Homo sapiens: one gene and its partner. The protein of the gene in region 2 purifies or fractionates together with the protein of the main gene of each other region. This does not show direct contact. Each region holds a gene or a part of one and is shown on either strand. Other genes may lie near its edges.

Evidence for each region.
Region 1: the proteins of PKIG (region 2) and RAB25 purify together in Homo sapiens (affinity purification with mass spectrometry; one large-scale study listed by BioGRID and IntAct). This does not show direct contact.

What each region holds. Positions count from the first base shown.
Region 1 is NC_000001.11:156,059,935-156,063,959, reverse strand, and holds the start of RAB25 (ras-related protein Rab-25 precursor), read right to left. Parts: upstream 2,801-4,025; 5' UTR 2,560-2,800; coding exon 2,517-2,559; intron 1-2,516. UniProt on the Homo sapiens protein: The small GTPases Rab are key regulators of intracellular membrane trafficking, from the formation of transport vesicles to their fusion with membranes.
Region 2 is NC_000020.11:44,613,326-44,616,816, forward strand, and holds part of PKIG (cAMP-dependent protein kinase inhibitor gamma), read left to right. Parts: intron 1-1,208; 5' UTR 1,209-1,231; coding exon 1,232-1,382; intron 1,383-3,491. UniProt on the Homo sapiens protein: Extremely potent competitive inhibitor of cAMP-dependent protein kinase activity, this protein interacts with the catalytic subunit of the enzyme after the cAMP-induced dissociation of its regulatory chains.

The DNA of each region.
Region 1 (4,025 bases), on a different chromosome or scaffold from region 2:
GAGATACTAATGGTTCATGTTTACAGTGTACTGAATGCTTACTATGTGCCAGGCAGTGTCGTTAAAAGCTTTACACATATTACCTCATTTAATCCTCATAAGAATGCCATGAATCCCATTACTATTTTACCTGTTTTTACAGACAAGGCGCTTTGGAGGTCAAATGACTTGCCCAAGATAACAGGGCTAGTGTTGTAAACACAGAGATGTGCTGGCCAGATCAGCCTTCAAGGAAGGACTTGCCCCAAGCTGCAGGGAGTGCAGGCTGCAGACAGGCTCCAGCTGTCAGCTCCTTCAGCGTCTGCCTCTGGTGCAGACAGCGGCCTCACTGGAAGTCATGCCTTTTCTGGGCAGCCTACACCCAGTGCTCAAGCAAGGTGAGGCAATCACAGAGCTCCCCGCCCTTGACCCAGGTTTGTCCAGCCTGTGTTGCTGTTTGACTTCTCCCTCTGCCCAATTATGTTTCCTCTCCCTTCCTTTCACAGGTGCTGATTTGTAAAAAAACATTGAGCTGGGCGCGGTGGCTCACGCCTGTAATACCAGCACTTTGGGAGGCCTAGGAGGGCGGATCACAAGGTCAAGAGATCGAGACCATCCTAGCCAACATGATGAAACCCTGTCTCTACTAAAAATACAAAAATTAGCTGGGTGTGGTGGTGCACACCTGTAGTCCCAGCTACTCAGGAGGCTGAGGCAGGAGAATCGCTTGAACCCAGGAGGCGGAGGTTGTAGGAAGGCGGAGATTGCAGTGAGCCAAGATCGCTCCACTGCACTCCAGCCTGGGCAACAGAGCGAGACTCCGTCTCAAAAAACAAACAAACATTGAACACCCCAACTTCTTCTCAGCGTCTGCTTCTAGGGACCCCAACCCAACCCTCAATACTTTTTTTTTTTTTTTTTTTTTTTTAGACAGAGTCTTGCTCTGTTGCCCAGGCTGGAGTGCAGTGGCACAGTCTCGGCTTACTGCAACCTCTGCTTCCTGGGTTCAAGTGATTCTCCTGTCTCAGCCTCCCGAGTAGCTGGGATTACAGGCACGTGCCACCACACCCAGATAATTTTTGAATTTTTAGTAGAGACAGGGTTTCCCCATGTTGGCCAGGCTGGTCTGGAACTCCAGACCTTAAGTGATCCCGCCGCCTCGGCCTCCCAAAGTGCTAGGATTACAGGCGTGAGCCACTGCACCCGGCTGACCAACCCGCAATACTTGTAAGTGGCAGGGCTGAGATCTGAACCCAGTCTGGCTCCTGACCACAATGTTACACTGCCCCTCAAAATAAAATATGACTTTCGGGGATTGTTATGGTATTAATGAGGTAGTGGCAGGTACATAGTAAGTGCTCAATAAATGGTAGTTCCTCATATTATTGCCCCAGACTATTGCTAACCCTTTCCTTCCTGGAAAAGATGCCAGTAGTACAGGTTCCCCAGCTCAAGGGCGGGTTCTGGAGTGAGAGTCCCAGCTCAAGGGAGGGGCCGGGCTGAGGTTGGGAGAGGCATTGGGGTAGGGTGGCTGGAGAGTCCACCCTGCCCTAAAGGAAGTATGAAGGTGGGGTTGGAAAACAGCAAAGGCACCAAACACAGGGGCTAGAAAGATACATGCATGCTTCCAGGGACAGCAAAGTTGAGCCCAGTGCCTGGTATGCAGGTCCAGTGAGTCAGCCAAGGGCCAGGCAGACGAGGCTACAACCCTAGGAGTCCTCTGGATTCTATCAGACTCTGCAGCAAATTCATGATATTTTCTGTCTTCCCTATGTATTTATTGCCCCACCCTATAATGGGATGTGTCTCTCCTTTCTCTCGTTCCCTGTACACCTGCCCAGAAAAGATGACTTTCTTCCTCTTGTTTGCTGGTTTCCCTTTCTTCTCAAGAGAGAAGTCCTGGCCGGGTGTGGTGGCTCATGCCTGTAATCCCAGCACTTTGGGAGGCCGAGGTAGGCGGATCATGAGGTCAGTTCCAGACCATCCTGGCCAATATGGTGAAACCCCGTCTCTATTAAAAATACAAAAATAAGCCGGGCGTGGTGGCAGGTGCTTGTAGTCCCAGCTACTTGGGAGGCCGAGGCAGAAGAATCGCTTGAACCCAGGAGGTGGAGGTTGCAGTGAGCTGAGATTGTACCACTGCACTCCAGCCTGGGCGACAGAGCAAGACTCCGTCTCAGAAAAAAAAATAAAAGAGGGAAGTCCTTTCTGAAGTCTGACCTCCATCTCTTGTGCTGCACTGGCTGACACCAGGGATTTGGGTTTCTATTAGGAACGGGGCAGAGGAGCCTAACTCAGCACTCTTAAGGAGGAATCAACATCATTATTTACCACAGTAGAGCATACTCAGAAGCTCCCTGACTTTTGCCCCTGCAACCAGACCCTCCCCCACTCCCTGCAGCTTTCTTTCTGAAGGAATGAGGAGCCCCAGGAGGTCTTGGTAAGAGATAAAAAAACAGGAGGGGGCCCTCTCTGGCTCTATTCAATCTCTTTCTGGGTCTCTCAGGCTTCCTCTTGCTTCAGGGAACCCAACTCACCCTTGAAGACAAAGTTATAATCTTCCTCAGTTCCATTCCCCATCTTGGCTCCGCATGGAGGGTGCAGGTGTCTTCGGGGACAGAGGCGACAAATCTGTGTGTTGGCTCAATGCCCTCAACCCTCAGCTCTCAAAAGATCTGGTCCTGCCCCTCCTCTCATTGGGGGTAAGGGGACTTCTGCAGCCAGAGGGATTGGGGGCCAACTCAAGGTTAGGCAGGGCCTAGGGAGGATCAGCTCTGGCAGGTGGGGGTGCTGTAAGGAAGCAGAGAGGACGGAAGCTGAGAACAGGAAGAGCGGGGTGGCTGGAGACCTGGGGCCCAGGTGGGTGGAGAGATGATGACGTCAGACAGGTTCGACAGGTTGGGTGTCTGCTCTCAGCCTGGGCTCCCGCAAGCGGGAGAAGCAGCTCCAGCGGGGGGGAAGCGAAAAAGGGACAGGACCTTCAGAGACAGCCCACTGAGGGCTGAGTGTGCATTGCTGGGCTTCTGGAATCTGTGGTGAGGGCCGGTCCCCCAACTAATGAGCAAGAAATAGCCCCTCAGAAACCCACTTGAGGCCAGGCGCGGTGGCTCACGCCTGTAATCCCAGCACTTTGGGAGGCTGAGGTGGGCGGATCACCTGAGGTCGGGAGTTTGAGACCAGCCTGACCAACATGGAGAAACCCCGTTTCTACTAAAAAAATACAAAATTAGCTGGGCGTGGTGGCACATGGCTGTAAACCCAGCTACTTGGGAGGCTGAGACAGGAGAATCGCTTGAACCCAGGAGGCGGAGGTTGTGGTGAGTCGAGATCGCGCCCTTGCACTCCAGCCTGGGTAACAAGAGCGAAACTCCGTCTAAAAAAAAAAAAAAAAAAAATTAGCTGGGCATGGTGGTGGGCGCCTGCAATCCCAGCTACTTGGGCGGCCAAGGTAGGAGAATTGCTTGAAGCCGGGAGGCAGAGGTTCCAGTGGGCTGAGATCGTGCCACTGCACTCCAGTCTGGGCAACAGAGACTGCTTCTCAAAAAAAAAAAAAAAAGGCCGGGTGCGGTGGCTCATACCTGTAATTCCAGCACTTTGGGAGGCCGAGGCGGGCGGATCACAAGGTCAGGAGATCGAGACCATCCTGAAGGAATGAGGAGCCCCAGGAGGTCTTGGTAAGAGATAAAAAAACAGGAGGGGGCCCTCTCTGGCTCTATGGTAGAAACGGTGAAACTGTGTCTCTACTAAAAATACAAAAAATTAGCCAGGCGTAGTGGCAGGTGCCTGTAGTCCCAGCTACTCGGGAGACTGAGGCAGGAGAATGGCGTGAACCCAGGAGGCAGAGCTTGCAGTGAGCCGAGATCGCGCCACTGCACTCCAGCCTGGGCGACAGAGCAAGACTCCGTCTCAAAAAAAAAAAGAGGCCTGGTGCGGTGGCTCCCACCTGTAATCCCAGCACTTTAGGAGGCCGAGGCCAGCGGATCACGAGGTCAGGAGTTCAAGACCAGCCTTACCAACATGGTGAAACCCTGTCTCTACTAAAAATA
Region 2 (3,491 bases):
CGGCTAATTTTTTTGTATTTTTAGTAGAGATGGGATTTCACTGTGTTAGCCAGGATGGTCTTGATCTAGAACTACTAATTTCATATCTTTCCTCCCCACTCCACCTCTCTTCTGAGCTCCAGCCTCCTAGTTCCATGTACCTAGCCTACCTCTCCCCTTGGAGGGCTCACAGGCATCTCAAAGTTACCGAATAGGCCAAACAGGACTTTATGCCCTCAAATATTCCTCCTTTGTTCTTCCATATGTCAGCAAACCACACTTCTGTCCACCTACTTATTCACACCAGAAACCTAAATTACCTGTCAATCCAACACTACTTCTTGTTGGTTCGATTTCCAAGTTATATCTAGAATCCTTCCCACTGCCCCCCTCCTCCACCCACCATCTTGGCACCTGAACTTCACAGGAGCCTCCTAACTTGCCCCTTCCCAGCACTGCTGTGCCCGGCCGCCACAGTCACCTTTGAAAATGCACGGCTGCTACTTCATGGCCTTGCCTAAAGCCCCTCAGGAACCAAGTTCCAGATGTGGTCTGGCTCCTGCCTACCTCAGCAGTGTCCTTGGTGTCATTGTCCCTCTTCTGCCATGCTCCCGCCTGCTGGCTCTTTCTGTCCTTCCAAGCCCTCATGCCTCCCTCCCTCAGAGCCTTCACACATGCTGTTCCCCTCTCTGTAGTGCTCTTCCCCTCACTCTTCATCTGCATGACGCCTCGTCCTCCTTGGTTCTCAGCTAAAATGTCACTTTGTGACCCCCAGCCTTGATCAGGTCCCAGTGATCACTCCAGCACCCTGCATTCTCCCTTGAAGCCTTGAGCACCAAGGCCATGACTTAGGTACGAGGTGACTTTATGCCACCTGTAGTAGATGGTAAGCTCTGTGAGGCCAGGGACCATGGCCAGTTTGTTCATGGTGGTATCTGTGCCAGTGCCTGGCGCATGGTATTAATAAATGTGTGTACATGTTTGTCAATAATTTTATTTAAAGAAAAGTCTGAGCCCATGTTCTTTAAAATGTTGATGGTGGTTGTCTGGGTGTGGAATTATGAGTGACTTGTTTTGTTCTTTGTACTTTTCTGTGCTTTTTGCTTTGTTTTCAATAAGAGGCAATAACTGTCATTTTGACAGAAGCCACTGTGCTGGGGAACTGGAGCTGTCCTCTCTGCAGAATGCATCTGGACTTACCTCTGCCCCCTTGCCTTCTGTCCCCACAGGCCTGAGGAGCGATGCGACAGGCATGATGGAGGTCGAGTCCTCCTACTCGGACTTCATCTCCTGTGACCGGACAGGCCGTCGGAATGCGGTCCCTGACATCCAGGGAGACTCAGAGGCTGTGAGCGTGAGGAAGCTGGCTGGAGACATGGGCGAGCTGGCACTCGAGGGGGCAGGTTAGAGCCAGCAGGTCCTTGGCACTACTGCATGCCAGAGGCCCTCTGCCGGGCCCCGGGCTAGCCTCCAAGTCCTAGACTGCCCATACTTTCTTAGAGAAGAAACCACATTTAAGTCAGGCCTGCCCCATGGTCAGTGGCAGAGTCCAGCAATCTCTAGGTTGGAAGATGTTTGAGTCTCAGGCCCCAAGGACTCCTCTGGACAGGCATCCGGGACTCTTCCTGTCCCCCTGCCCCCTAGCCCAGGTCCCTCCACTTCTCGCTATCCCCACAGCTATACCTGGCTCTGGCCACTCACAGCTCTCACCTGGCTGACTTTAGCGGCCGGCTTCCCTGGGCTCCCTACACCCATCTCCGCCCTTCCTGTTCAGCTCTATGCAGCAGCCAGCAGACCCCATTTAAACCATTCTGTCCATCATGCTTCTGCCAAAAAAAAAAAATCCCCCAGTGGCTTCACTGAGTGAAGCTAAGCTTGTCACATTGCCCTGGGGCAGTCCTGCTGTAGGCCGGGCCCTGCCCAAGTCTCACCCGGTGCCACTCCTCTCCCTGACACCCTCCAGCTACATCTACCTTTGGTCTGTTTCTCAGTCAAGCCTCTCCAAGGGGCCTTCTCTGAGTGCTAGATCAGCCTTCCCCAATCACATGACCCTCATCACTCTCTGACAAGGTCTCAGGGGTCTAAATGTGAGCGCCGGGAGGGCAGAGGCCTTGCATTCTGTTTGGCACACAGCAGGTGCTTGGTAACCACAGACCGAATGACAAAAGGAAACAGCATCCACCCACCCAAGTCCTGGCTGGAACACCCCCACCCCCTCCATTCCCCCAGAGAACCCCTTGGCTCAAGTCCACAGTCAGCCTGGGAATTTCCTTGGGAAGCTTCCCTGACCCCTGCACGGCTGAGGCCTTTCCCTCCTGCTCTCACAGCGCCACAGAGGCCGTGTGTGCTTCTCACAGCACAGCCATCAGGCTGCAACTGTCTCCCCGTGGGCTGTCCGGAGGGCCACAGCCCTGCCCCTCCCTGGGTAGCCCTAGTCTTCTTGCCCCTCACTGGCCAGAAGTGAATCAAAAGTACAGAACAGAGAAGACTTTGCCGGGGCTTGGACCCAGCCCTCTCATGTTACAGATGGACAAACTGAGGCCCAGAGAAGTTGGAGGACTTGCTCTGGGCCACCCAGGGAGTTAACATAGAATCTGGCCGGCTTGAGAGAGAGCCCCCAGCACCCTGTCGACGGAACCCCACCCCAAAAGCCTTCCCTGTCCCATAATCTATTCATTCTCCTCTGTCACGTGGCCCAGGCAGAACCTCCACAGGCTCACCCTGCTCGCCTCTCCAGCATCAACTCTCATCCTCTCGCCAGCCATAGTCAAGTACTTTGATCGCTCAGAAGCCCCTGTGGGCCTTCACACGCTGCACCTCTGTTTGCTTCTCCCCTCCCTCCCCTTGCCTGGCTGGGTTCTCTTCATTCTTAGAGACCCAGGCATCTGCTCAGCTGAGAAGCCTTCCCTGACCGCAGTACCCCTCCCAGACCGGGGAGGCACCTCTTCTCCCTGCTGCCTCCATGAGCCCACTGAGCATAATGGCCCTGCTCTAGACTGAGCTTCTCCAGCACAGGCTCTGTGTCTTGTGCCCTCGGTGCCTGGTGGTGTTTGGCACATGATGGAGGTACCGAGTCAATGGCTGTTCATTGACCGACTGAATGACCAGCATGTCCAGCTGCCACACTGGGCACGCTGCCCTGGGCTCTCTCTCAAGGCTTCTGTGTCCTCACCCTCAGCTCTGGTGAGCTCTGTTCTGTCTCTCTCTCCCTCAGCAGTTGTAGCTGCTGGCCCATGTGCCCAGGCTCTCCTAACACCTGTTTTCCCTGACTCAGATTCCCTAAAGTATGGGTCCTCTGGCTACATGACATTCACCTGCCAGGGTGACTGACATTTAAAAAGGGGGCCTGAGGAAAGAACAGTGCTCACTGAAGGAAAGGAAACACTCACGGTGGCGTCCAGGCAAGAGTGACTGGCCAAGGAGCCTTCCAGGAAGCCCGCAGGGAGCAGTTCCGTTTCACAGGCGGGGCTGCGGGCCACGCCCACTCCAGCGACTCCCCAAGGCAGGGGGAG